Linked DNA regions of Homo sapiens. The protein of the gene in region 7 purifies or fractionates together with the protein of the main gene of each other region. This does not show direct contact. Each region holds a gene or a part of one and is shown on either strand. Other genes may lie near its edges. The genes, in order: CSE1L, AGPAT2, HIGD1A, MON2, DNAAF5, NUP210 and MS4A4A.

Evidence for each region.
Region 1: the proteins of MS4A4A (region 7) and CSE1L purify together in Homo sapiens (affinity purification with western blotting; one study listed by BioGRID and IntAct). This does not show direct contact.
Region 2: the proteins of MS4A4A (region 7) and AGPAT2 purify together in Homo sapiens (affinity purification with mass spectrometry; one large-scale study listed by BioGRID and IntAct). This does not show direct contact.
Region 3: the proteins of MS4A4A (region 7) and HIGD1A purify together in Homo sapiens (affinity purification with mass spectrometry; one large-scale study listed by BioGRID and IntAct). This does not show direct contact.
Region 4: the proteins of MS4A4A (region 7) and MON2 purify together in Homo sapiens (affinity purification with mass spectrometry, with the first as the bait; one large-scale study listed by BioGRID). This does not show direct contact.
Region 5: the proteins of MS4A4A (region 7) and DNAAF5 purify together in Homo sapiens (affinity purification with mass spectrometry; one large-scale study listed by BioGRID and IntAct). This does not show direct contact.
Region 6: the proteins of MS4A4A (region 7) and NUP210 purify together in Homo sapiens (affinity purification with mass spectrometry; one large-scale study listed by BioGRID and IntAct). This does not show direct contact.

The regions. Positions count from the first base shown.
Region 1 is NC_000020.11:49,070,025-49,073,994, reverse strand, and holds part of CSE1L (exportin-2), read right to left. Parts: intron 3,791-3,970; coding exon 3,698-3,790; intron 1,710-3,697; coding exon 1,542-1,709; intron 1,428-1,541; coding exon 1,298-1,427; intron 1-1,297. UniProt on the Homo sapiens protein: Export receptor for importin-alpha. Mediates importin-alpha re-export from the nucleus to the cytoplasm after import substrates (cargos) have been released into the nucleoplasm.
Region 2 is NC_000009.12:136,677,407-136,681,376, forward strand, and holds part of AGPAT2 (1-acyl-sn-glycerol-3-phosphate acyltransferase beta), read right to left. Parts: intron 151-3,970; coding exon 17-150; intron 1-16. UniProt on the Homo sapiens protein: Converts 1-acyl-sn-glycerol-3-phosphate (lysophosphatidic acid or LPA) into 1,2-diacyl-sn-glycerol-3-phosphate (phosphatidic acid or PA) by incorporating an acyl moiety at the sn-2 position of the glycerol backbone.
Region 3 is NC_000003.12:42,797,576-42,801,545, forward strand, and holds part of HIGD1A (HIG1 domain family member 1A, mitochondrial), read right to left. Parts: intron 1-3,970. UniProt on the Homo sapiens protein: Proposed subunit of cytochrome c oxidase (COX, complex IV), which is the terminal component of the mitochondrial respiratory chain that catalyzes the reduction of oxygen to water. May play a role in the assembly of respiratory supercomplexes.
Region 4 is NC_000012.12:62,469,826-62,473,795, reverse strand, and holds part of MON2 (protein MON2 homolog), read right to left. Parts: intron 3,096-3,970; exon of another isoform or gene 3,018-3,095; intron 1-3,017. UniProt on the Homo sapiens protein: Plays a role in regulating membrane trafficking of cargo proteins. Together with ATP9A and DOP1B, regulates SNX3 retromer-mediated endosomal sorting of WLS away from lysosomal degradation.
Region 5 is NC_000007.14:757,550-761,519, reverse strand, and holds part of DNAAF5 (dynein axonemal assembly factor 5), read right to left. Parts: intron 1-3,970. UniProt on the Homo sapiens protein: Cytoplasmic protein involved in the delivery of the dynein machinery to the motile cilium.
Region 6 is NC_000003.12:13,322,468-13,326,437, forward strand, and holds part of NUP210 (nuclear pore membrane glycoprotein 210 precursor), read right to left. Parts: intron 3,465-3,970; coding exon 3,328-3,464; intron 966-3,327; coding exon 842-965; intron 1-841. UniProt on the Homo sapiens protein: Nucleoporin essential for nuclear pore assembly and fusion, nuclear pore spacing, as well as structural integrity.
Region 7 is NC_000011.10:60,286,897-60,290,866, reverse strand, and holds part of MS4A4A (membrane-spanning 4-domains subfamily A member 4A), read right to left. Parts: intron 1-3,970.

The DNA.
Region 1 (3,970 bases), on a different chromosome or scaffold from region 7:
GTTCCTCCCACCTCAGCCTCCCAAAGTGTTGGGATTAAAGGTATGGGCCACCACACCCAGCCAGAAGATTTATCCTTTAAACATATTTTTATGAAAACACAACAGGAAATAAAATCTCACGCTATATTGTCCTTAATTTCCTTATTTTGTTCCAGATGTAATTTGAAAACCACTGATCTAATAACTATTTTGATATAAAACAAAATCTTGGCCTGGCATGGTGGCTCATGCCTGTAATCCCAGCACTTTGAGAGGCTGAGGCAGAAGGATTGTTTGAAGCTAGGAGTTTGAGACCAGCCTGTGCAACATAGGAAGACCCCCATCTTTATAAAAAATAAAAAACTAGCTGAGCATGGTGGTGCACGTCTGTAGTCCCAGCTACTCAGGAGGCCAGGGTGGGACAATGACTTGAGCCTGGGAAGTTGAGGTTGCAGTAAGCCATAACTGTGCTACTGCACTCCAGCCTGGGTGACACAGTGAGACCCTGTCCCCAAAACAAAAAACACAATCCCTCCCACCTTCATTACTTGTTCTTCACAACTGTTAGAACAAGGACATACATTTTATAAATATAGGCTCTTAGCACTATAGTTTAACCTTAAGCACAAACTAAGTGGGCTTCAACCTTGTATTTATAAAGTTATCATTTCTATTCTCAAGTCGATTGTTTAAAAACAGCTATTTCTGGGCGAGGTGGCTCAGAAATGCAATCCCAGCACTTTGGGAGGCTAAAGCGGGTGGACTGCTTGAGCTCAAGAGTTTGAGACTACCCTGAACAACATGGTGAAACCCTGTCTCTACCAAAAATACAAGAAATTAGCCAGGCATGGTGATGTGTGCCTGTGGTCCCAGCTACTCAGAAGACTGAGGTAGGAGGATCACTTGAGCCTGGGAGGCTAAGGTTGCAGTGAGCCAAGATTGCATCACTGCACTCCAGCCTGGGTGACAGAGCGAGACCCCTGTCTCAAATAAATATATAAATAAATAAAGCCAGCTAAAAATTCATTGAAATAATAAATGAAACAAAATCAAATTCTTTCTCTAAATAGAAATTCCAGATAGTTTATCTTCTTAGTGTAAAGGAATTTTTGAAGTCTTATTTAATATTTCCATGAGAAAACCCTCACAGGGCACAACAAAACTCATTACAGATACTACATTTTCTGTCTTGGTTTAGAAAATAAGAAATAAATGACATACAAGTTTTATCCAGTAATAAATGAATTAGACTGAATATGTTACAAAAAACAAACACAGACTTAGTAGATTTATACTAATATACTTTTGCCATAATTACCTCTAAATTCCATGTTAGGCACAATAACCTTTTCACAGATACTTGTCAGCGTGTTCTGGTCCTCAAATAGATTCTTATAATGAGGTCTCTCACAAACTGAAGCCAGAAATTGAATTGCATTACTTACCAACTGGAACAAAACACAAAAACAAGAATATTTTTAAAAGCAAAACTCAACAGCTTATTTCTTGGAGGAGATAGGGAGAGAATGTCTTTTAATTATTTGTCTCCACCATCATCTTACCAAATCATATTTAACCTCTTGACCCGTTGTAACTAGTAAATTCCAGATGGCTGTAACAAAACGAGGCAGGTATCGCTGGAATTCTTCATCGTACTTTTGTGCATAGAGTGCGGCATTATCACAAATCTGGGATTTTAAGAGCTCCAATAAGCCGGCTTCCTCTTCATCCTCACATAAAAGAAAACAAAAACTCCAACATACAACTCTAATGCTAACATAAGTAAGAGGAGTAACTGAAATTCCTGAACTAGACTCTTTATCAATTAAATCCAAATCAAATCAGTTATTGTAAACTACAGCTATGCCACCACCAATCTTTTCACCAAGTCTTTCAAATAAGTTGCTGAATTACAAAATATTTCCGTATTAGATTCAAACAGTATATTCTGGCTGAGTGTAGTGGCTCACGCCGGTAATCCCAACCCTCTGGGAGGCTGAGGCTGGAGGATGGCCTGAGGCCAGGAGTGGTTTTTTTTTTTTTTTTTTGAGACGCAGTCTCCCTCTGTTGCCCAGGCTGGAGTGCAGTGGCGCGATCTCAGCTCACTGCAAGCTCCGCCTCCTGGGTTCACGTCATTCTCCTGCCTCAGCCTCCCAAGTAGCTGGGACTACAGGCACCCGCCATCACGCCCGGCTAATTTTTGTATTTTTTTTTTTTAGTAGAGACGGGGTTTCACCGTGTTAGCCAGGATGGCCTCGGCCTCCCAAAGTGCTGGGATTATAGGCGTGGGCCACTGCGACGGGCCAAGCCCAGGAGTTTTGAGTCTAGCCTGGGCAACACAGCAAGCCCCCAAAATAAAAAAAATCAGCTGGGCATGGTGGTGCATACCCATAGTCCCTGCTACTTGGGAGGCTGAGGTGGGAGGATCACTTGAGCCCAGGGAGGTCGAAGCTGCAGTAAGTCATGATCATGCCACTGCACTCCAGCCTTGGTGACAGAGTGAGACAAGGGAAGACATCAGAGTAAGAACAAAAACCAAAGCCAAAACCAAAACTCCCTCACACTGATTACTTAAGGCATAAATAGTAGCACAAGGTAGCACATGGTTAACTGGGCAAAAAGGTCCTTGTAAGAATTCTATCCAAAAAATTTCCTTGTGACTTTTGTGTGAAGAAAAGTTTTGTTTTCTGAAGGAGTGTTTTTCCCTCCCATTGGACTGAAATAATTATTTTATGAGAGCTACATCTTTTAAAGTTCCTATTAATATAGTCAAACTCTGAGACAAAATCTGTTGTACAACGATAGTAACAATTTCTTTCTGTACCCCACTCTTAAAACCTGATTTGAATCACCAATTCTAATTTTTAGTTTATTTGGTATTGAAATATTTTTAATATTTTGTCTTTTGTCTCTTCGGAAAGAAGGTCATAAATATATTAACAAATGAGTAGCACAGAATAAGTGTTATATGTTTAAAAGTACACAATATAAAACCCATATCAGAAATATTTACAAATTACAATCTTTTACCATTTTCTCTCTTTCTCGAGCTGTGGATAATTTTTTCTTTTTCTGAGACGAGGTCTCCCTCTGTCTCCCAGGCTGGAGTGCAGTGGCATGGTCACAGCTCATTGCAGCCTTGCCCTCCTGGGCTCAAGGTCAAGGGATCCTCACAACTAAGCCTTCTGAGTAGCTGTGACCATTAGCATGAGCCAACACATCTGGCTAATTTTATTTTTATTTTTTGTAGTGATGGGGGTCTCCTTACATTGCCAAGGCTGGTCTTGAACTCCTGGGCTCAAGGGATCCTCCCCACCTTGGCCGCCCAAAGTGCTGGGATTACAGGTGTGAACCACCATGCCTAGCCAGATGATTTTTAAAAAGGGGCTACCATTATAGAGTTTTAAGTTTTCTTAGTATCTTCAATGAAAAATAATTTTATTTCATGAAATATCCATAATGTCACTACTTTAAAGACCTACTTTCAATAATGTAATGAAACAGCCTTATATGTACACTATGGCTTAAGCCAAGCCCATGATAAGAGTAATTCTGTATACTACACACACCAAACATGTAACATCAAATAGAATCAAATATTATTACAGTATTGAAATTTTATCTTTTAACAATGCAAGAGTAAATAGGTTTCCAGACTGTAGCCAAATAACTCTTAATGAAAGAAAAAGACCACTCAGGCAACATTTTAAATACTTACATCAGTTTGTAAAAGCTTATTATCCAATGTTAAGAGAGTATGAAAATTATTCATCCAAGTTTCCATATTATCTTCAAAAAATTCAGGGAGATCCTACAGAATAAACACTGACTTGAAACTTTTGATTAAAATATTAAGAACACCACTTTTATAAGTTCCCTTACCACGTGGACAAAACATTTTATACACAGGCTTCACAGCCTGAGCATTACCTATTCTGACAAGAATTCTCTGCTCCAGCTACATCTGGCAGCTGCATAAAGCATTCTGACT
Region 2 (3,970 bases), on a different chromosome or scaffold from region 7:
CCGAGGCCCGGCCTACCCATCATGTCCAGGATGCTCTGGTGGTTGGAGACGATGACACAGGGACGGGCCTCCTGCAGCCTGCGCGGGTCCCGCACCTCGAAGCGGAGCCCGTAAAAGTACTTGAAGCTTCGCACGAACCAGCCGATGATGCTGCAGGGGAGGCCACCATGAACACGGGTCCCACAGATCCCGCAGCCGAGGCTGGGGCGCGAAGGCCTGGGGGTGGGGTGTGGAGGAGGCTGGGGAGGGGCCCTCCTGGCACGGGGCAGGAGACCGGGAGACACAGGGGAGGGAGCCCCTGAAGCGGACAGAGTCCCGGGCCCGGCTCACCCACCTGGACGGCTGCCCTGCCTCCGTCTCCCCAGCAACAGAGGAAAACCCAGAGCCTCTGGAACTCGGATGCTAGGAGCATGGGAAGGCGCCCACTTCCAAATCCACATCCAGGGCCCACCCAGCCCTCATCCACCCCACAGGGGACCCAGCCGGAAAGGAACTGGCACTGGCTCTCACGTCCGCTATGAAGGACCCACGTCGGGGAGAGCAGCCTCTGCACCCCAGCAGAGGAAATGGGGCCCCACACACCCTGGGGAAGGTCACTGGCCCCTCAAGGCAGGGCCACATCAGGAAGAAAGTGTCGGCGCCAGTGGAGACCTCTGAAACGACCTCCGAAAGGTTCTTCCAGAAAAGAGCCGAGACCGAGACCCTCTCTCACCCCTACCCTACAGAATCAGGCCGGTTCCCTTTCCCCGTGAAGAGGCGGCGAGGGGCTCGGGGCTTGTCTGAGGTCACACCAGGAGCAGCAGCAGAGCCAGGGTCTGGGCCACCTGAGCCCTGGCCACAGCAGCCCCCACTCTGGCAGGGGCCCAGCCCACTGGGGGCTGCCCTTGGAGCACCTGCAAATGTGAGGTGGCCTTGTCCAAGCAGCCCGTCATGGTTGGGACCAGGGATGTCCAAGGGGTACCCGAAGACTCTGACCAGCTCCGAGCGTCCCAACCTCTGCCCTGCTGTGCTGCCAGGAAGCTCTGGGCACACCCCAGATAGGGCACCCCATCACAGGGCAGCCGGCGGGGATGGAGCCAGGAGGACGGAGCTCCACTCCGAAGCTCCAGCAGGGGTGGATGGCCGGGGCAAGGCTGTGCCAGCGCTGACTGGGGGGCTGCCAGTGCTGCTCCCCTCTCCATGCAGACTAGTGCCCCCCACCATTTGATCCCCCAGCAGTCCTAAGGGCCCCACACTTTCTACAGATGAGTCTGAGTAACTGCCCCAGGCCACAGAGCAGAGATTCAAAGCCGGGGCCTTCTCTCAAAGCCATACTGGTGGGGATTTTTGTTGTTTTAACAGGGTCTTGCTCTGTCACCCAGGCTCCCCTTGCTCTGTCTTGCTCTGTGACACAATGTGTCACATTGTGCAGTGTCACAATCTGGGCTCACTCCAGCCTCCACCTCCTGGGCTCCTCCCACCTCAGGCTCCTGACTAGCTGGGACCACAGACGTGAGCCACCACACCTCGCTAGTTTTTGTATTTTTGGTACAGATGGGCTTTCACCATCTCTGGCCAGGCTGGTCTCGAACTCCTAGGCTCAAACAACCTGCCGACCTCGGCCTCCCAAAGTGCTGGGCTTACAGGCCTGAGCCAACTCGCCCGGCCTTTAAAAAAAAATTGTGGTAAAATACACGTAACATAAAATGTATCTCCTTGGCCTTTTCCGGGTGCACAGTTCATGGGCGCTGGGCACATTCGGTGTCTAGCAGCCATCTCCTCCCTCTATCTCCAGAACTCTCCACCTTCTCTGGCTGACGTCTGTTCCCATGCGACACAAACCCCTGTCCCCTCCCCAGCCCTGGCACTCTGCCCTTCCATGTGTGAGCCCAGGCCTGCGGCAGCACCACCTCAGGCTGATGGGGCAATGCTCATGACCCCCTGTTGCAGATGGGGAAACTGAGTCAAGGGGGGCCTAATGGTTAATTCTGGTGATGAGTCCAGCCGTCCGTCCCTGGACTTGGAAGCCTGGGGCCTCCTCAGATCTGCCTTCCTCAGCCAACTCTAGATATCTCCTCTCCAGGCCGCGCCGGCCACCGTCCCCTCCCACCCAGAAGGCACACCCGGGCTGGTAGCACCCGCACACTCAGGGGAACTGCAGGGCTGTTTTGCCTCCACACTCATTTGCGCAATCCAGCTTCCCGGACCCCTGTGACGCTCCAAGAAGACGAGGAGGCAAAAGCCGGCAGTTCACCAACAGGAAACACAGAACTGTCTGGTGCTAGCAAGACGGCCGTGTCGCCAATCAAAGAAGCGCAAATGGAAACAAGAGACTGTCCTCATCCTTCCCCCTGGCACAGATTAAAACGCCTGATAACAGGAGGTGCCAGCCAGGGTGTTGGGAACAGGCCCAGCGGCTGGCAGGAGTGAGGAGTCGCACAGACAAGATACTTCTGTGGAGGGCAGGTTGGCAGGCCCGGCCAGAGCCCTGAGGAAACCTGGCCCCTCCCCTCTCAGAATCTTCCAGGAATTCGCCCGACGGCTGGAGTGAGAAGCCTGTGGTGCTGAAGTGTGCAGTGAATTAGGAAAACCTGAAAATGCTTAAATAGCCACCAGTAGAAAGAGGGAAAGTAAATTAGGGTCCATTTCACAGACAGCTGGGGCGCGGGGAAAGAACAGGACAGGTCCACACTCATCTCCTGTGAAGGACATGTGTATGATTTCTAGCAGCAGCCAAGACACACCTGCAATTCCAAAGCTAGCTGCCTGCAGGAGGCTCGGGCCACATCTGAAAGGGACATTGGTTCCCTCTGGTAGTGACATTGGCCAGTTCCATCTTTTATTTACTTTTTTATTTTTGAGACAGGGTCTCACTCTGTCACCCAGACTGGAGTGCAGTGGTGTGATCTCAGCTCACTGCAACCTCTGCCTCCCGGGTTCAAGCAATTCTCCTGCCTCAGCCTCCTGAGTAGCTGGGATTACAGGTGCCTGCCACCAGGCCTGGCTAGTTTTTGTATTTTTAGTAGAGACGGGGTTTCACCATGTTGGCCAGGCTGGTCTCGAACTCCTGACCTCAGGTGATCCTCCCACCTCGGCCTCCCAAAGTGCTGGGATTACAGGTGTGAGCCACCGCGCCCGGCCAGCTAGTTTCTTAGTGTTAACAACTGCATCTTGGTGATGTAAGATGTTAACAAGGGAGGAAACTGGTGAGGGCCACATGGGGTCCCCCGTAATATCTTTGCAACTTCTCTGTAAATCTGAAATTATTAAAAAATAAGATCTTCATTTATTTTTTATTTTTTTTGAGACGGAGTCTTGCTGTCACCTAGGCTGGAGTGCAGTGGCGAGATCTCAGCTCACTGCCATTTCCACCTCCCGGCAAGCGATTCTCCTGCCTCAGCCTAGCAAGTAGTTGGGACTACTGGTGTGCGCCACCACACCCGGCTAATTTTTGTATTTTTAGTAGAGACGGGGTTTCACCATGTCGGCCAGGCTGGTCTCAAACTCCTGACCTCATGATCCGCCCGCCTCGGCCTCCCAAAGTGCTGGGATGACAGGAAGGAGCCAGCGCGCCGAGCCCTCCTCTGTTTTGATTGTGGTATAACACGCACCACCTAAACAATATAATTGTACCCATTTCTCAGCACACGGTTCCGTGGCACTCGGCGCATTCACTGCCGTGTGGCCAGCACCACCCTCTAGCTCCAAAACTTTTCCTTTTTTTTTTTTTTTTAATCTAAGCTGCTTAGGGGTTGGATCGTGCACTGATACTTCTCTCAGCTGTGAAAGACACGGGGTACAAACCCCCGCCCAGCAGGCGGTGCTGAGCAGGCGCTGTGTCCCGCCGCCCACCACCGGCCCCTGGTCCTCAGGCCAGACAGATGGACGGACGGAGGCTGCCCCAGGCCAGCGGGAGGCTGTGGCTCTCTAGAACTCTGCAGCCCACAGTGTGGCTGGGGGAGAAAGGTATACCCTGGGGGTGGAAGAAAGT
Region 3 (3,970 bases), on a different chromosome or scaffold from region 7:
TGTGGGGAGCGCCTCTGCCCCACCGCCCCATCTGGGATGTGAGGAGCGCCTCTGCCCGGCCGAGACCCCGTCTGGGAGGTGAGGAGCGTCTCTGCCCGGCCGCCCCGTCTGAGAAGTGAGGAGACCCTCTGCCTGGCAACCACCCCGTCTGAGAAGTGAGGAGCCCCTCCGCCCGGCAGCTGCCCCGTCTGAGAAGTGAGGAGCCTCTCCGCCCAGCAGCCACCCCATCTGGGAAGTGAGGAGCATCTCCGCCCGGCAGCCACCCCGTCCGGGAGGGAGGTGAGGGGGGGTCAGCCCCCCGCCCGGCCAGCCGCCCCATCCGGGAGGGAGGTGGGGGGTCAGCCCCCCGCCCGGCCAGCCGTGCCATCCGGGAGGGAGGTGGGGGGGTCAGCCCCCCGCCCGGCCAGCCGCCCGGTCCGGGAGGTGAGGGGCGCCTCTGCCCGGCCGCCCCTACTGGGAAGTGAGGAGCCCCTCTGCCCGGCCAGCCGCCCCGTCCGGGAGGGAGGTGGGGGGGTCAGCCCTCCGCCCGGCCAGCCGCCCCGTCTGGGAGGTGAGGGGCGCCTCTGCCCGGCCGCCCCTACTGGGAAGTGAGGAGCCCCTCTGCCCGGCCAGCCGCCCCGTCCGGGAGGGAGGTGGGGGGGTCGGCCCCCCGCCCGGCCAGCCGCCCCGTCCGGGAGGGAGGTGGGGGTGTCGGCCCCCCGCCCGGCCAGCCGCCCCGTCCGGGAGGGAGGTGGGGGGGGTCAGCTCCCCTGCCCGGCCAGCCGCCCCGTCCGGGAGGTGAGGGGCGCCTCTGCCCGGCCACCCCTACTGGGAAGTGAGGAGCCCCTCTGCCCGGCCAGCCGCCCCGTCCGCGAGGGAGGTGGGGGGGTCAGCCCCCCGCCCGGCCAGCCGCCCCGTCCGGGAGGGAGGTGGGGGGGGTCAGCCCCCCTGCCCGGCCAGCCGCCCCGTCTGGGAGGTGAGGGGCGCCTCTGCCCGGCCGCCCCTACTGGGAAGTGAGGAGCCCCTCTGGCTGGCCAGCCGCCCCGTCCGGGAGGGAGGTGGGGGGTCAGCCCCCCGACCGGCCAGCCGCCCCGTCCGGGAGGGAGGTGGGGGGGGTCAGCCCCCCGCCCGGCCAGCCGCCCCGCCCGGGAGGTGAGGGGCGCCTCTGCCCGGCCGCCCCTACTGGGAAGTGAGGAGCCCCTCTGCCCGGCCACCACCCCGTCTGGGAGGTGTGCCCAACAGCTCATTGAGAACGGGCCAGGATGACAATGGCGGCTTTGTGGAATAGAAAGGCGGGAAAGGTGGGGAAAAGATTGAGAAATCGGATGGTTGCCGTGTCTGTGTAGAAAGAAGTAGACATGGGAGACTTTTCATTTTGTTCTGCACTAAGAAAAATTCCTCTGCCTTGGGATCCTGTTGATCTGTGACCTTACCCCCAACCCTGTGCTCTCTGAAACATGTGCTGTGTCCACTCAGGGTTAAATGGATTAAGGGCGGTGCAAGATGTGCTTTGTTAAACAGATGCTTGAAGGCAGCATGCTCGTTAAGAGTCATCACCAATCCCTAATCTCAAGTAATCAGGGACACAAACACTGCGGAAGGCCGCAGGGTCCTCTGCCTAGGAAAACCAGAGACCTTTGTTCACTTGTTTATCTGCTGACCTTCCCTCCACTATTGTCCCATGACCCTGCCAAATCCCCCTCTGTGAGAAACACCCAAGAATTATCAATAAAAAAATAAATTAAAAAAAAAAAAAAAAAAAAAAGAATCTTATAACTTCCAGCTGCACGACTCCTAAACCATAATTTCTAATCTGTGGCTAATTCATTAAACCTACAAAGGCAGTCTAGTCCCCAGGCAAGAAGGGGGTTTGTTTTAGGAAAGGGCTGTTACCATCTTTGCTTTATTTTTCTATTTTTGTTTTATGAGACAGGGTCTAGTTGCCACGCAGGCTGGAGCACGATCTCGATCTTTGCTCACCGCAACCTCTGCCTCCGAGGTTTGAGTGATTTGTGCCTTAGCCTAACAGCTGGGATAACAGGTGTGCACCACCATGCCTGGTTTTTTTTTTTTGTATTTTTAGTATAGATGGGGTTTTGCCATGTTGGCCAGCCTGGTCTCAAACTCCTGGCCCCAAGTGATTTGCCCGCCTCAGCCTCCCAAAGTGCTAGGATTATAGACGTGAACCATCATGCCTGGCTCCATCTTTTTTTGGCTAGGTCAGATCTCTTTCACTGTCTCAGTTATAATTTTGCAATGGTGGTTTCAATCACAGTGTAATTAGTTGTCAAAAGCCTAACACAGACAAGGTCTGAATTTAGAGAGAGTGATGTATTTTAGCTAAAGGAGGTTTGGCACGTTTCACAGAGAAACACTTGAGACTGGCTTTGAAGAAACTGCATAAATGGACTGGATAGAGAGATTAAACACTGTATTTATTTTAGGCCAGTATGTTTACTAGTTGCCTTCATATCTAATCATGAACTTCTCGGGCAGGTGCGGTGGCTCATGCCTGTAATCCCAGCACTTTGGGGCACCAAGGTGGGCAATCACTTGAGGTCAGGAGTTCGAAACCAGCCTGGTCAACATGGTGAAACCCCCATCTCTACTAAAAATACAAAAATTAGCTGGGCATAGTGGTGTGCATGCCTGAAATCCCAGCTACTTGGGAAGCTGAGGCAGGAGGATCGCTTGAACCCGGGAGGCAGAGGTTGCAGTGCGCTGAAATTGTGCAACTGCACTCCAGCCTGGGCCACAGAGAGACTCTGTCTCAAATTTTAAAAAATAAAAGAAAAAGAAAAAGAAAAAGAAAAAAAAAACATGACCTTCTCAAAGGGGAAGTTTATCACAAATCCTTTCATTTCCCTTCCCAACCCCACATTCTGACCACATTAAATATTTTTAAGATGCTCTCTATACCTCTAAGCCTTTGCACAAGCTGATTCCTCTACTTGTGAGAGTTTCCCTCCCTTTCCATCCCCTTCAGATACTCTTTCCTAGCTAACTCCTCCCATTTTTTTTTTCAGGTTTGGTTTTTCTTTTTTTACACTGAGTCAGAACATTATTTTAATAGTTACAAAACTTTTTTTTTAACAGAATCAGTATAAAATAGCAGTTGATTTCTCCATAATTATCAGAATTATTTATATTTGAGGTCTTGCCTAAGTGGGGCTGAAATCAACAAAAGGTCTTGGACTACTGGCTCAGAAATCATCCTAGGAAGCCCGCCCTGTTGACATTTGTCATGCTTAGCTCTTATGAGATGACCCGGTCCTTTAAAAAAAAAAAAAGTATCTCCGTTTATTCTGTTTATTTGGAGGTTTGAAGTGAATTCGGCAGCATTCATTAAACTCCTTCCAGCTCCTGTCATTTATCATTCTGACTACATCCATTTCAACTTTGCCTGCTCTGTTCTGAGTTGCTTTAACAATATTAAATCGTCCAAATTCTTTTCTCTCTCTTCTCAGAGGTTTTTTACTACTGCTGAGGTCTGGGCTATATAGTTTTTTATGACTCTGTCCCTACTGGCATGAGCTGCCATCAAAGACTCAAAGTTGTTTACAGGTTTGGCTGGCATCAATCTTCCCTGCAAAGGAAGCTGTTGGAACTGTAGTGTTTAATTAATGTACTAGTCTGTATCAACTGTCCACATCACCTTGAGTAATTCCTGGAACTCGGCGAACTCCTCACAGTTCACACTGCCACTGGGTGCCACCATACTGGACTCAGGTTCACATCTTAATTGACCTCCTCTCAGAAATTTTTGTCTCTTTAAGTTCGTAAGTGCTTTGGTTATGCAGTCCCATAGGACCTTGTACTTTCCTTATAACCCTTATAAGCACCAGTTTGTCTGTTTCTTTTGCTAGAATCCTTCAAGTCAGGGACCAATACCTGCTCTGCTTGTATCCAACTCCACTGCCTGGTGCAATACCCTATATATAATATGTACACTACAAATGTTTCTTGAATACATTTAAAAGTTACATTTCTC
Region 4 (3,970 bases), on a different chromosome or scaffold from region 7:
GGTTTGCGACCAGCCCAGGCAACATGGCAAAACCCTGTCACTATGAAAAAATACAAAAATTTGCCAGCCGTGGTGGCATCTGCCTACAGTCCCAGCTACTCAGGAGGCTGAGGTGGGAGGATCATTTGAGCCTGGGAGACAGAGGCTGCAGTGAGCCAAGATAGCCCACTGCACTCCAACCAGGGTGACAGAGTAAGACCCTGTCTCAAAAAATAGAAACAAAAAGAAAAAGAAAAGGATGTGGAATACTGAGAGGGGAAACAGGGAAGTACAGTCTTACAAAACTCAAAACTAGAGGGTTCCAAGATGGAAAGAATAACCAATAGTAACAAATAATGAAGCAAGGTAAACAAATGGGAACAATAACAAAAACAAGAAAGTTGTAAAGGCATGTGCAGCATGATATAATGGAAAATGGGAGAGGAGTTAGAGATGGACTCACATGGACTCACATACCATTTCCACCATTTCCACCATTTTCCAGCTTTACTACCTTATGCAAATTACTAAACCTGTCTATACCAGTTTCCTCATCTGTAAAATGAAATATTTAATATGGCATGTTGCATTAGAGTCTAAGGATGCAAAGTTCCAAGCCTAGTGGGAAGGCAACATTTTATTCAACCTTGAGTTAACTTCATGAGACTAAAGGCAATTTCTCAATTATTTCTGTGTTCCTGCTGTGCTTTTTTAGGAGACTCATAAATTTCTGTTAAATTATAACAGTAACAGCAAAACCTTCTACTTCATACATGGTTGAAAATGTTCAGCTATGCTTACATAAAGGAAAAAAGAAAAATAAATCAAATTTTGAAATATGTCTTCCTTTTTGGCTTATAAGTTAGAGAATATGTCTTTTATTTTTTCTGTCACCAAAGCACAGGTAATCATTTATTTCAGTTTATAGCTTTCAATATATAAAGCATGAATATATTATATTACGCTTATGGGAGAAAGAACACAATGTCAAGAGGAAGAAACCACATTATAAAATACTAAACCAAAACAGATCCCAAGTAAGCTCGTAAAGATTATCCAGCCCTCATCTTCAATGTCATAAGGTCGTGCAAATGAGGTGTTAACCCAACCAGGAGAGCCAATGACATTAGTCACAGTCCCTAAATATCTGATTAAATGGCAAATCCTGTCACAGTAAGTAGAAGGCATCTCTTTCACTAGGGGTCTCCCTAAGCCAGTTAACAAAGCAAAACACCTGGATACTGAGGAACTCTATCACAAGAAACCTTTGCTTTTCTCTGCCAGCCAATTTCTATTAGGCCTGAATGGGTAACAGGAAACTTAAACTACATAGCCTAGGAAGACTACTTGCACTTTTAAATTATTTATACCCTTACTGATTCTGCATCATTTAAAAAGAGAGAAAAGGAATCTATCCAATTCCCTAATTCTGACCACCTAAACTCAAATGAACTTCTTTCCCTTTACTCTTCTACCACCCATTCCCTGGACTTCATCATCCTCTAGTGCTGGGCAATCTGAAATGCAATATTCCCACCATTGTCCCAACTCCTATCCTTCTAGCTCTCTCACTCCCCAACCCCACTGCTCTTTGATGAAATAGGTGCTGCTAGCCTTTAACCTTCCCATCATCATCCAGTCAATCCAAACTATTGGCTTTCCTTCTTTGGGAATCCAACCTAGCTCTCACAATCCACCATTATTTCAACCACTCTTCCTGCTAAGACTCTTAAGTGTTCCAAGACAATTTCTCCTCCACTTCTCCAAAGTGATCCACTGCTCTCCTCAAACTTGCCACCCCCTACTTCTTTTATCACTTAATTATTCCTACTAACAAGCTTGTTTCTTATCTTCGCAAGAAAGCAGAGGCCACAGACCAAACTGCCCACAACTTGTCGCTCCCTTCTGTCAAATTTGTCACATTCAAACCCGGTTTTTCCTTTGTCCTTCCTCTGTCAGAAGGTAATGTGTCCTTTCTCAGATTGAAATCCTGTTCATATACTTATGCCACTGAAACTTCAGTTTTCTCAAGGACCTTCCTCTAACGAGTTTTACCTTTCTCTCCTGTATCTTTAACCTCAGTCTGCCCAGCAGCCTTTTTCTTTAATGTTGTTTCCCACAGTTCCTTTTCCAGTCCTGATATTCTCACTCTATACACACACTCTTCCTGGCCCATTTCATCCAATTCTATGGTTTCAAATATTATTTATAAACTGATACTCCTAAATTTGAAATTCCAGACTTCCCTCTTAAGTGCCAAACCATCATTTTCAAACACCTACTGGTCAGTTCCACTTGGATGTCACACATAAATCTTAATATAATGACTACTCTGCTGGGTGTGGTGGCTCACGCCTGCTATCTCAGTACTTTGGGAGGCCGAGGCGGGCAGATCACCTTAGGTCAGGAGTTCGAGACTAGGCTGGCCAACATGGTGAAACCCCGTCTCTATTAAAAATACAAAAAATTAGCCAGGTGTGGTGGCACGCGCCTGTGATCCCAGGTACTCAGGAGGCTGAGGCGGGAAAATCACTTGAACCTGGGAGGCGGAGGTTGCAGTGAGCCGAGATTGTGCCACTGTACTCCAGCCTGGCAACAGAGACTCCGTCTCAAACAATATACACACATGACTACTCATTTTCCCCCAAAACATTTCCTCCTCTTTTATTTCTTCTCTTAGTGATCCACCTAGTTTCCCAAGCCAGAAACCTGGGAGGCATCACACATTTCTCTCTCTCCATTATATAAAAGATTACCATGCCTTGGTAATTTTTACCTTTTCAATCTATACGCTCTTTCACTACTGTCTAACTCAATGCAAGCAACCTTCTGTCTATGTCCACTACTGCTTCAAAACAGAGAATCATCATTTTTTAAACTTTGCTCTCTTTGCTTCAGTCTCAATACCCTCTAATTCTTCCTACCAACTGTCAAGGCAATGTTACTAAATATCAATTTGATCATATTACTCTCTTTCAAAAAGCTCTAATGGCTCCAATCATCTTCAGTATAAAATTTATTTTACATGGAATACTAACAACGTGTGCTATTTCCTCTGCTAGGAATGACTCCCCTCCTCCAACTTCCAGGCTCAGTTAGATACCCCTCATCTGTACCTGCAAATAGGAAATAATAAGAAAGTTTTTATTCATGAAATACATAAACATAAAGCTTCAGAGTTGTCTTCCTCTAAAGGCCACTGAATATTAATCACATAGAAGTGATCATGGAAGGCTTCAAAGTAATTTTTAAAACAAAGGAAAAAATTTCATACAATATTCCCAAATTAGCTAGTACAGTTGTACTAAAAAAAGTTATACTGCTAAAACATGAAGATTTATGTATAACAACTAAGAAAAATAGAAAAAAAGAGAAAGAGGTTATTATAAAATGACAGAATAAAGCCATAGCCACTACAACAACAATTTAATATACAAAGGATAGAGTTATAAATGAAAACAGTAAGGTAGGAAAAACCATGTAGAAGTCCAAAGACAGTAAGTAAATATCAGTAAATAAAGCACTATTCTTTATCAATACTCTTTTATTGGTTTTTCTAACAGATTTGAAATCTTTAAATCCAGCTTATTATTAATTTTAAAAAAGAATTACATGGGCAGCCTGGGATACGCCTATAATCCTAGCACTTTGGGAGTAGGAGGTGGACAGATTGCCTAATCGCAGGAGTTGGAGACAAGCCTCGGCAACATGGTGAGACCCTGTCTCTACAAAAAAAATACAAAAATCAGCTGCGTGTGGTGGCATGCACCTGTAGTCCCAGCTACTCAGGGGGTTGAGGTGGGAGAATCACTTGAACCCAGGATGTCAACGCTGCAGTGAGCCAAGATCCTGCCACTGCACTTCCAGCCTAGGTGAAAGAGATCCTGTCTCAAATAAATAAATAAATAAATAAATAAATAAATAAATAAATAAAATAATAGTCAAGCACTATGGCCATAAAAGACAGAAATGACTAAAAATTTGAAATAAA
Region 5 (3,970 bases), on a different chromosome or scaffold from region 7:
CACGTAAGACGTGACTTTGCTCCTCCTTTGCCTTCCACCATGATGGTGAGGCCTGCACAGCCATGTGGAACTTTGAGTCCATTAAGCCTCTTTTTCTTTATAAATTACCCAGTCTGTGGTAGATCTTTATTAGCGACATGAGAATGGACTAATACAGGGCTCCCGCTCCGGCCCCAGTGTCAGGGCCGACAGAGCCCGCCCGGGGCTCCTAGTCTACGGCTCACGAGGGGCAGCAGCCATGGGAGAGCCCTTGCAGGGAGAGCCCCCAGGCGCTGGAGGTAGGGTGCCGGCATGTCAACCATAAAAGGGCGTGCTTGTTGATGGGAAAACTGAACACAGACTGGGAGCTAAGGAATCTGTGCTTATTTTGTGAAATGTGAACAGGCACTTGAGCTATGTGGTGGAGAAGCTGCGTTAGTGATGCACACGGCACCTGTGAGGGAAATGACGGCGCACTGCATTATCTGCTTTACAACATGCCCAAGTTCTCCCCGCCCTCCAAAGTTAAAAAGAAAAGTGGCCCCAGGCAGGCAGAACACGCATGCCAAGGGCTGGTCAGCGCTGAAGCTGGCAGTCGCTCTGCTGCCTGCCCCTCTTCTGTGCATTTTTGAGCTTTTCTATAACACCAAGTTTTAAGACAAATAAAATTCTATGGCTTAACATGTTTACTGATTGACGGGGAGGTGGAGTCTCAGCTCTGCACCTACGGCTGCGCTGGATGAATGGCTTCCCCTCCCGGCTCCAGCCTCATCCACTGTGAATCAGCCAGGCTCTGAAGCCCGCAACACAGCAGGCGTGTGCTGGACCCAAGAATTCCTAAGGCTTTGCGTGTGCTTACTTCTTTCTAAATAAATTTTAACTTATTTTTTAGAGACAGGGTCTTGCTCTGTCGCCCAGGCTGGAGTGCAGTGGTGCAATCGTGGCTAACTGCAGTCTCAAACTCCTAGCCTTAAGTGATCCTCCTGCCGTGGCCTCTCAAAGTGCTGGGATCATAGATAAGAACCACCACGCCTGGCCTGTATTTACTTCTTATAACGTCCCTCTAATGTCTATTTTATGTATGTTTCATAAAGTACAGAGTGAGTCAGGACCGTGGCCATGTAATTTAAACACGTGATTTATCAACAGTGTACATATATTGGAGGCCTATGCTTAAAAACTGTTTTTACTAATGGGGGTGCAAGTTCAAAGAAGTTTGGTAATTATTTGGCTAGACAATGGGTTGGTTCTAAATTTCCTAATCAGCTCTAAAACTCTAAGCCTCATTCCCCACTGACGTAAATCATGGAAGACTAAACAAAACACTCCCACTGTACTACAGCAGCGTTCTGTCCTTGCACCCCGGCCCCGCCCTGACCCACAGAAGACACAGAGCTGCATGGCTCCATCTCCCTCGGAGCTGGAGGAGCCGCGCGGCCCCGTCTCCCTCAGAGCTGGAGGAGCCGCGCGGCCCCGTCTCCCTCGGAGCTGGAGGAGCCGTGTGGCCCTGTCGTGGCCCCAACTCCCACAGAAGCCACAGATTTGTTTTTATTCCATTCCTGATTTTTCCCACAGCCCAATTTCTCTAAGGCCTGTACTAACTGGCTGACTTCTGAGGACAATATCTGGCTAGTTTCTAGAATGACCTGTCATGTACATTTCAGGAGCGATCATCTTTTCGGTTAAAATCAAAAGGCAGGTGCGTTTAGAAGACACAGCCCCTCCTGGCTGACCACACCTCCAAGCACAGGAACAAACAGGGAATCAGGCATCCTTTGCAGCAAGCACCACCCTCCTGCCACGAACGCAGCACCGTCTCTGAGGAAGTGACAAGACTTCACATTTATAGATTTCTCTATATTTGACCAGACAATTTTCAGTGTCTGCCTACATACAACGCACACACACAGAACGAAAAAGAAAAAAGATACAGCAGGAAATAATTCTCAGTATTTTTTGAAATACTATTTCAAACATTGTTTTCTGAAACAATGTTATCTAAGACTGCAAAGGTTTTTAATTCAGAAAAGCACAAGAGACTCCTATTTCAACAATGGCAATGGCATCCCACAACTGCTGGCTTCCCTGTGTGAGAAGCAAATCGGTGAGTTACCCATTTCCTCACTCTAGACACCTGTCCTAAACTCCTTCCCAGGAGACTCCAGTTCCCGTCTGTCGAGCTCTAGGGGACCTACTGGGCCCGAGACACCTGGAAGTACCTACTGCTAAAGCCAGATTTCCTGTGAACCCCAGGGCAGGGAGTGAAGCCAGGCTCAGTTTAGAATACATTTACACGGACTTCTCTGTTTAAACACGAGCTTTTAAAACAATTTCGGTTTGTTCTTGAAAGACATTTTCAACCTGTTCTCATAGCTACTGGAGAATAGCTGTGGGAAACATAATCGACTTCCCAAATGACATGACACAAAGCCCGGCCGGCCGCGGGAAGAGCACAGGGGCGTGGGAAGAGCACAGAACCACGGGCCTGATTCTGACTGAGACCTGAGTACCTTCACCCTTTCTTGCCAAAAATTTAAGTCTGTTAAGGAGTAAAATGGGGCCAGGTGCGGTGGCTCACACCTGTAATCCCAGCACTTTGGGAGGCCGAGGTGGGCTGATCACTTGAAGTCAGGAGTTCAAGACCAGCCTGGCCAACATGGAGAAACCCCGTCTCTACTAAAAACACAAAAATTAGCCGGGTGTGGTGGTGCATGCCTGTAATCCCAGCTACTTGGGAGGCTGAGGCAGGAGAATCGCTTGAACCTGGGAGGCGGAGGCTGCAGTGAGCCAAGATTGCGCCACTGCATTCTAGCCTGGGTGACAGAGCAAGACTCTGTCCCAAAAAGTAAATAAATAAAAATAAATAAAAAAAAATTACCCAGGTGTGGTGGTGCACACCTGTAGTCCCAGTGACTCAGGAGGCTGAGGTGGGAGGATCAACCTAAAACAAAAAAATAAAAACAAGAAAGGAGTGAAATGTACGTCTTGGGTTTTCACTGTGACTGGCTCCTTGGCCAAAGGGCCGACACACGTTCGCAGCCTGGAAGGTTGAGGCTGGCTTCCCAGGGGTCCCGTGTGACTGGACTTTGTCAGAAAGACGTCTCTGTTTGAAAGATTGTGATTAAATTTTTCCTCGATAAAACTGGAAGATGGGGAGCCAAATGCACAACTGTGGGATGACACAATTCCGTTTTCCTGTAACCAACATGGAGATGTGAAAACTACACTTTCTTTGCTATAAAGTTTGTGAGATAAGGATTTAGGCACCTGTGCACATTTTCAAGTTATGCCCTTCTAGGAAAAAATGCTTCTGGCTTGCAAATCTGTATACAGAAATCAAAGGCATCCTCATAACCCCTCGTGGGTGAAGGAAAGTGGAGAACTGACACACATTCGATGATGTGTTAAAAACGGGTTTTGGGAAAAGCTGAAGCATGGCTGAAATGCCATGAGCACGCGGCCCGGGCCCCTCCCCCGCTCCCTTCCTTACCCCAGCTCCGTTTCCTTCCCTCTATGTATTCCAGGAACTGCTTACAGGTTTCTTAAAACAGTTTACAAAAATGACTGTCAACAGCCCCACCTCTCGTTCTGAGGACGGAGAGGGAGCCTGACACAGGACAGGCCGGGCTGAGAGCACAGTGGCAAGTCCCCGTGCCCCAGGCCAGCTTTGGGGCCATAGAAGCCGCCGGAAACGATCGAGCCGGAGCAAGTGCCTCCAGGGGTGAGCTGAGGCCCGCCCTGCATGGCACGGCCGCCTGGTGGGGGCAGCCCTGTGTCCCAGAAATATCTGGGGTGCTGAGTCCAACACACACACTGACAGGGACCACTCACCTTCAAATGAAAGCAAAGCCATCACCTCTTCTTCCATGGAATACAACTATGGATTATTCCAAACAATTGAGCCCAACTACCCAGGCTGTTCCAGCTTCTGAGCTCAAGGATTTGCTGCTCAATTTAAAATTAAACAAATGTCTCTGGCAAATCCTCAGCT
Region 6 (3,970 bases), on a different chromosome or scaffold from region 7:
AGGGCGGCTCAAAGCTTTGAGATGCAGCCAGGATTGGTAAAGCCAAGGACATATCATATGGAAGAGGATGCCATCGGCATCACAGGGAGCTTCAAGTCAGAATTTCAGCATTTGTTCCAGACCTTGCATCCAGGGGCACGGCAGACGGGCTAGGCCCACTAATGCCTGTCTTCTGTCCCTGTCAGCAGGGGAAACGGCAATTTACTTCTGCACATTCAGAGGGCACTAGTTCTCCACTAACATCTGAGCAGCATTTAGGCAACGGCACAGTGCTGTCCACTTGCGCTGAGGAAGGAGCAGAGGCTGCCATGATGGAACAGAGCTGCCTCGTTAATCAGGACGAGAAGGGCGGTGCTTCACTCTGCCAGTGAGGTGGTTTAAGAAAACAGCCCTGTTGACTTACTTATTTCTGGCAGCTGCTGTTCAGGGCTGTCATGGGCAGGGGATGGGGTTCAACATTCTATGCATGACCTGGGAGAGGTCATTACAAAAATTAAAACCAGTGACGAGTCCTGCTAATTCATTAGTTTCTGGGATTCACGGTGGGAAATTGTGGCTTTCTTTGCTAGGGTGCCCTCGGGCTGAAGTCACATTTCCAGTGCAGAACAGGCACCTTCTGGGAGCTGGGCTCCATTATGAAGATTCCTTTCACTGGCTCAGCTTTTGGAGGACTCCAATTTCAGAAACGCTGGAAGGAGTGGATGAGTGGGGGCTAAATGCCCTCTCTGGAGTTGGTGTGAGTGTGAATAGGAGAAGCAGATAAACTCCATCCAGAGGACACAGGAAGCCACCTCCCCGCTCCCAGGTACTCTGAAGACAGCCCAAGCCCCTCATTAAGTACCTCTCAGGTTAGAGCTTCTGTCTCCCACGGCAACAATCACTTTGGAGGCTGTAGCCTCCTGGAAGCTGGTCTGGATGGGGTGGAGGTGACGGGCCATGATCCTCTGAGGGACGCTGACCACCACCTAGAGAGGGAGCCAAGGAAGCTTCATGGAGCGCCGCCTGTGTCCCGGTCCATGCTGGGCGTTTCCACAACCTCACCCTGCAGTCTGTGACATAGTGTCACCCGTTTCACAGGTGGCAACACTGAGGCTCAAAGCCTAAACGCCTTGCTAGAATGTGGCAGAGAGGGGGTTTGAGCCCAGTCTGGTCAGACTTCACAGCCCAGTTCTCCCATTGAACAAGCTGCTTCCCCCAGCAGCTGACTGGACGCTGAGCAGCGGGCCTGAATTCATTAATCGATCTGGGTGGGCTGAGGATTTTGGCTGTTCGGACAGCCATGATCACTTCTCTGTAGTACAGCACCACACCCCACCCAGAATCCAGTCTGCCCAGATTTTCCCAGCTGTTCCCCCTGTGCCCATCCTGTACCTGGCCACACCCAAACAGCCCCAGGCTGGAGACCTCCCTGCACTCCCTTGGCTAGGACACCCTCCCATCTTCTCTGCAGAGCCCAGCCTCATCCACCCTTCAGGCCCAAGGCCACTTCCTGCAGCTGAAGGCCCCCCTCCCTCTCTCAGCAGGCACCAGCGCTCCCTGCCTCCAGGAGATCTGATTTCTACCAGTAGGTGAACTTCAGAGCAGGGATGCGATTGAAGCCCCTGCAGCTCCCAGGGATGTGGCCCATGCAGAGCTGTAGGTGACCAGGCATCACTGTCAAACTCACGGTGCCTCCGCTCAGGGCTTACCACCATCCACCTCCAGGGACTGACAGAGGCTGTGTCCCACTCTCTAGCCTGGGACCCCCCAACGCTGGCCCTCCTCTCCCCTTCCTCCCTGTCCACCCTCAGAGAGTGCCCAAGGCTTCCTGGCCCCTCTCCTGCCTGCACTCCTGGAGTGCCCGTGCACTCCCACCCACTCCCAGGGCTTCAGAGGCCACTTCTGGGCTGAGGCCCCCACCCTGTCCAGCCTTCCTCACAGTGCTCCTGCCGCACCCACCCAGGTGTGCCTCCTGCCTCACCTGGGAGAGCTGTGACATCTCTAGCTCCCCGGCCCAGGCTCCTCACCTCCCTGCAGGCCTACCTACCTCTGTGTGCCCCTCTCAGCAAAGGACCAGTAGCAGCCTGGTCATCCCAAGCCCTTCCTCCCCTCCAGCCTCACTTCTGGATGCTCATGGAGCTCTGATGTGCCTCCCTCCCTCCCGTCTCTCCCAAACCTGCCTTTAGATTCTGCCACACCCAGTGATCCCAGCTGAGGGCCTGGCCTCAGTCTCTGGCCAGTTACCCTGTAGCGACTGCTCTCTCGAGCTCCTCCAGGTGCCAGGTAACCTCTGCAAACACAGCCTTGGTCTATAGCACTGTTTAAAAAACTCCACTGAGTGTGGCATAAGCTTCTACCCCTTCACCCTGGAACAGCAGCAGCAGCAGCAGCTAATTTCTGCTGAGCACTGGCTATGAGCTGAGCACCACCCTAGGGGCTTCTGACGTGCTAACTCACTAAATCCTCACAACGCTATCATCCCCATTATACAGGCAAGAAAATCGGGACATAGCGAGACTCAATGATTGCTCAGTCATAGCCTCGCAGTGGCCAAGCTGGGATTTGACCTAGACCGTCTAGCTGTAGATGCCCCACCCTCAACCTGCACCAAACTGCCTGGAATCTGGTGCATTTTCTGATCTGATCACAAAGCCAGACCATGCTTCTCCCACACCCTCTGTTCCAGCCCCCGAGGCTCTGCCCTTGAACCCTACACACCTTTGTCCATGCCACCCCATCCCCTGACCAGAGGCTCTTTCCAGGAGAGCACAGCTGTATTGTCACAGGATGCCTCTGTCTGCAACTGGCTCGCCCAAACTGCAGAGCCGCAGCACTAAATATGCAAACAATTAGGTTAAACTGCTAGGTTCCATAAAGCACATGCTGCCTCTAAAAATGAGATGCATTTGGATCTCAGCCAGACTTGCCCCACTGATTCATTCTCAACTGGAGATGAATGGAAGAGACAGCAGGTTTTGTCGCCTCCAGACTCAAAGGGTGACTTGCACAGGGAGTCTTAGCCTTGCAGGTGACAGGGAAGCACCGGCTCCCAGGAAGTGCCCACTCCGGGGTTGCCAGACCCAAGCCCATGGGAGCTGGAATCCACCCTACAAGGCTGCCTGTCCTCATCACACCCTCTTGAACATGGGGAGACTGAAGCCTGGAAAAAAAAGGGAGCTTGTCCCCATGTCAGAGTCAGCAAGTGGCCAGTCCCAGACTCATGACTCCCAGACCCAACCCCTCAGACGGCTTTTCCCTAAAAGGAAAAGTCTTCATAATCCTCCCAGAAGGTCAGGCCCGCCTCACAGGCCACTGAGCCACATGTGCCTCCGGCTGCTTAGAGCCCACCTCCTTGTAGGTCCTCAGGTGCCCAGCGACCTCATAGTAAACCGTCACGGATCCCACGGCCCGGGCCACAGCCACACCCGTCTTGGGGTCGATGTGGAGGATGCTGTTGGCCGAGGAGCTCCAGGTTCCTGAGAGGCCTGGAGAGGAAGCACAGGTGTCAGCCCCCTTTCCATAGCTGGACACTCCAGTCAAAGCCCAGCTCACCTGGATGACAGGCCAGCTTCCTCGCTGGCTGCCGCTACCCCCATGGGGGCTCACTCAGCAGCCTCAGGAGACAGCCACGCTGCCTGCCCCAGTGCCGGTCATGCTCCTGACTCCAGCCACCTGGAGCCATCAGCTCTCCTACCCTGCTGCACCCGCCCTCTACAGGGCTGTGGCCCCTAGCACCTGCTCTCCCTGACCCACAACTCCCTGCCTGGAATCTCCTGACCATCCTGGCATGAAGCTTTAGCTGACTCCTGCCCAGGAATGGTCTGGTGCTGCTGCCAGGCCCTGCCCTCTGTAGCTCCTTCCCCAAAGCACAGCCCCTCCCCATCCCTTCGTTGCCTTATCAATTCCTTTTTAGCAACAGACAGCAGGTGTGAGGCTCAGAGCTTTCACCACATACACATCTGAGTTAAAAGCCAATCACATTATATAATAA
Region 7 (3,970 bases):
TTCTCTGAAAAAATTATCATCCTGTATTTATTTTTGATACATCAATGGAAATAAATTATTAGCTATCTAACAATAAAACTGATTAAAGTCAGAAGAAGGGGGGTGAATTTCAGAGAAAGATAGAGGAGAAACGTTAAAATGAAAAGATTAATTATTTAGAACATTAATTTAACTTTAGTAATGTATATACTTAAAATTATGAAAAATAGTAAAATAAAAAGTACAAAATTACAAATTATAAAATAAGTATTTCTTTTAAAAAAGAAAGACAAATATAATAAATAAGAAATATATAATGTAAATGTGAATGAAGTAGTTAAGATAAGGAATTATATATAAGAATGTAACCAAAAAATCAATGTTCTTATTCTTTTCACTTTTAGAAAAGTTCCGAAAACAATTTGGACAAACAGAATTAGAACTCCATTTTTTTTATGAAAGTGGGAAACAACTAACATTTCTATAAATCAGGTGAAATGAGTGTTAGAAACAAAGATTACATGATGATAAATTTGGGGAGAAGTGTAGTGAGAGTATGAAAGAAACAGGACACCATGGCCACAGATTTCAGAGTATACTTATCAAGGATGAGAGGCCCCCCCTGAGGTGTACAACATAAATTACTGTTTATAATCCTGGGAATTAAATACATCAGTTGATAACTGTCACTTCCCTGGAAAAGTATAGTTCTGAGAATCATCGAAGTCAGTAGTAAAGGAGAAATCACCAAAAAGACACATATTTAGAAGGCAATCAGTCTCTGAATAAGTCCTCCATTGGAGTCCATAAAGAAGGAAGTAGATATCCTTGATACAAGCCTGCAAGAAGTCCCACAGATTAGGAGCATCTGGATATATATCACATATAGAATATGTAAAGAGTATAGATAACTTATTTAAATGAAAATTAAATCACAAACATGAAGTCAAAGATAAAGCACATAGAGTGACAGGACATATTTGGAACATAATCTCAAATTTCAAATACAAAATAGTGTTGACAGAAAACAATTGGCCAATGTGTTAAATAACAAGGAATAGCTGAAAATAGAATTAGTCAACTGGAAGAAAAATTTGAAGAAATCACCAAGAATTCTGTAGAGAAACAAGAAAATGGTCATAATAGAAGGGAGGTTAAAAGATTAGAAGTGTAGAATTAAAAGGTCTACAATATGTCTGATTAGAATTCTAAAGAATGTCACCAAGAAGGCCAACGAGAAGTTCCTAACCCTCATCATCATCAACACACACACACACACACACACACACACATACACACACACACACACACACTCCCCAAAACAATGAATAAACAAATGCATTCCAACTAAAGTAACTAAAGAAGAGCACCTGAAAACAGCAAAGGAGTAGCAGAAATCTTGTAGATCATAGAAACCCAGGATGGCTACATGAAGAAGGAGATAAAACACCTTTCTTCCACCACCCCTTCCCCCAGTTAGGACAATCTCTGAGTCAGCAGAGCCTTCTTCCTGCAGGGAGAAGGTAAGCGAGAGGACCCCAGCAGCTCCCATCACCACCATGGATACCTGTAATCTTACTACTGGAGACACTTAGAGTCTTCACAGGCTCTGAGCTCAGCTGATGGAGCTACCTGAAGTCCACATGTCTGTCCTATCCCAGAGGTGGTGCTGACACTATGCCCTGGCCTCCATGGCCTGAGCTGCTACTGTGTTGCCCCTTCTTGGAAACGAATCACTGCTACAGTGCATTCTGCTTCAGAAGTGAGTAGCTATTGCACACCTCTATCTCTGAGGCTTAACCACCACTACACCACACACACCTGGTAGCCATACCTGAGCCAAACTGCTGCTGTCTACTCTCTACCTGCTGAGGCCAGGCTGCCATGGAACTGCTCCATGCCCCCATCTTAGTTGCTGGTGCACACTGCCCCTCCAAATTCAAGCTGAAACTGTGGCCCACTCTCTGAGGACATATAGCTTTGATTGAGCTGTGTCACCCAACAATCCAGGCAAAATAACTGCAGTGCCCCACCTCCCTAGAACTGACTAGTTCCCTGGAGTCCAAGCTTCTGAGAAACCCTGGCTCCCCAGGGGGTCATTTCTATACTGCTTCAAGAAACCCAAGGACCAAGCCACAGACACGCTTAGTCATTCCTGAGGCCTTGCTGCTGCTACATCCAGCCTTACACAGCCTGGGATATTGCCATGCCCTACCATCCCAGTGTCTAGAGTTACCACTATGTGGCACTCCATCACCCAGGGATGGAGTTGCTGCAGTGTCCTAGTGGCTCTGGAACCAAAATTTCAACTGTAACCTGCTCCCCAGAGCTCAAGCCTCCAGAGCACCCCTCTTTCCCTGGAGCCATGCTGGTGTTGTGCACTGACCCCAGAATCAGTAACTCTTCCATCCCTGCCCCATGGGCTTGAGTTACTGAGGTTTGCTTCAAAGTTACAGCCTCAGCTTTGTGGGTAATCTGCATCCATCCATGCCTTGGTGAGTGAACCTGTGCCACAGTAGTTTTGCAAGACTCTGAGCCTAAGACCCCAGCTCCACAGCCACTATAATACTTGTGCCTAAAAAGTACAAGCTGTCAATCTCGATGGCAACCATGTGGTGTTAACTCTATAGGCTCACAGACTGCAAGAGTTGTAGGGGCATGGCTTTCGCCACCTAGTTTCAAAGGATGTCACAAATAGCTATGGGAGTGGAGCCACTTCAAAGAGCCTCCATCAGGGCAATGCTGAGTGGAAATATGGGGTCAGAGCCAACACAGAGTCCCAGTTAGGGATATGCCTAGTGTAGCCATGGTAGTGAGGCTACCTTTGAGATCTCGGAACTATAGGGCCACTAGCATGCAACGCCAACCTAACAGAGCTGAAGCATGGACTGAGCCCAGCAAAGATATGGGAGCAGGACTGTCTGAGGGCCCCAATCAGTGTCCCCAGGATTTAGGACATAGAATCAAAGGAAATTATTCTCCAGATTTAAAGCTTAATGCTGTTTTCTTGGTTGGGTTTTGGACTCACTTGAAACCACTTACACCTTTTTCTTGCCTAGTTATTTCTTTTGAACTGAGAAAGTCTATTCTGCACCTGTTTCACCATTATATTTTGAAGACAAATCACTTGTTTTGATTTCACAGGCTCACAGCTGGAAACATTTGCCTCCAGATAAATCATACCTTGAGTCTCATCCATATCTGCTTCTGATGTGACTCTGGACTTAGAACTTTAGAGTCAATGCTGGAATGGGTAAAAATTTTGAGGCTATTGAGACAGAAGTATTGTATTTTGTATGTGAGAAGAACATGAGTTTTGGAGGGTTGTAGATGAGATGCTATGGTTTCAATGTCCCCTCTAAAACTCATTTGAAAACTTAATTGCCATTTTAACAGTATTAAGAGGTGGGACCTTCAAGAGGTAATTACATCAGGAGACCTCTACCTGCATGAATGGATGAATGTCATTATCCTTGGAGAAGGTTAGTTATCACAGGAGTGGACTCCTGAAAAAAGAATAAATTTGGCCCCATCTCTCTCTCTGCTTTGTACGCTCACTTCCACTTTCCTTCATGGGATTATCCTCACTAGAGGTTTACACCATGCATGCCTTTAGACTTCCCAGCCTCTAGAGCTATAAGCAAAATACAATTTTATAATAAATTACCCAGTCTTCAATGGTTTTTTACAGCAGCAGAAAACAAAGATATCAAAAATTTAGTTTTGTGGGAGGACAGTACAAGTCTAGAGTTCTTGTTTCAACAAACATTGTTATTGTCACCTTAAAATAGTCAATTTATAAAACTACGTGGTTTTATGTAAGCCTAATGATGAGTACAAGGCAAAGAACTACAGCAGATACACAAACGTTAAAGAATTCAAAGCTTAGCAATTCATAAAATTACTAAATCACAAAGGTAGACCAGAGCACAAGAAAGAAACAAATATCTACAAAAACAAACCCCCCCAAAATAATAAAATGTCACTAGTA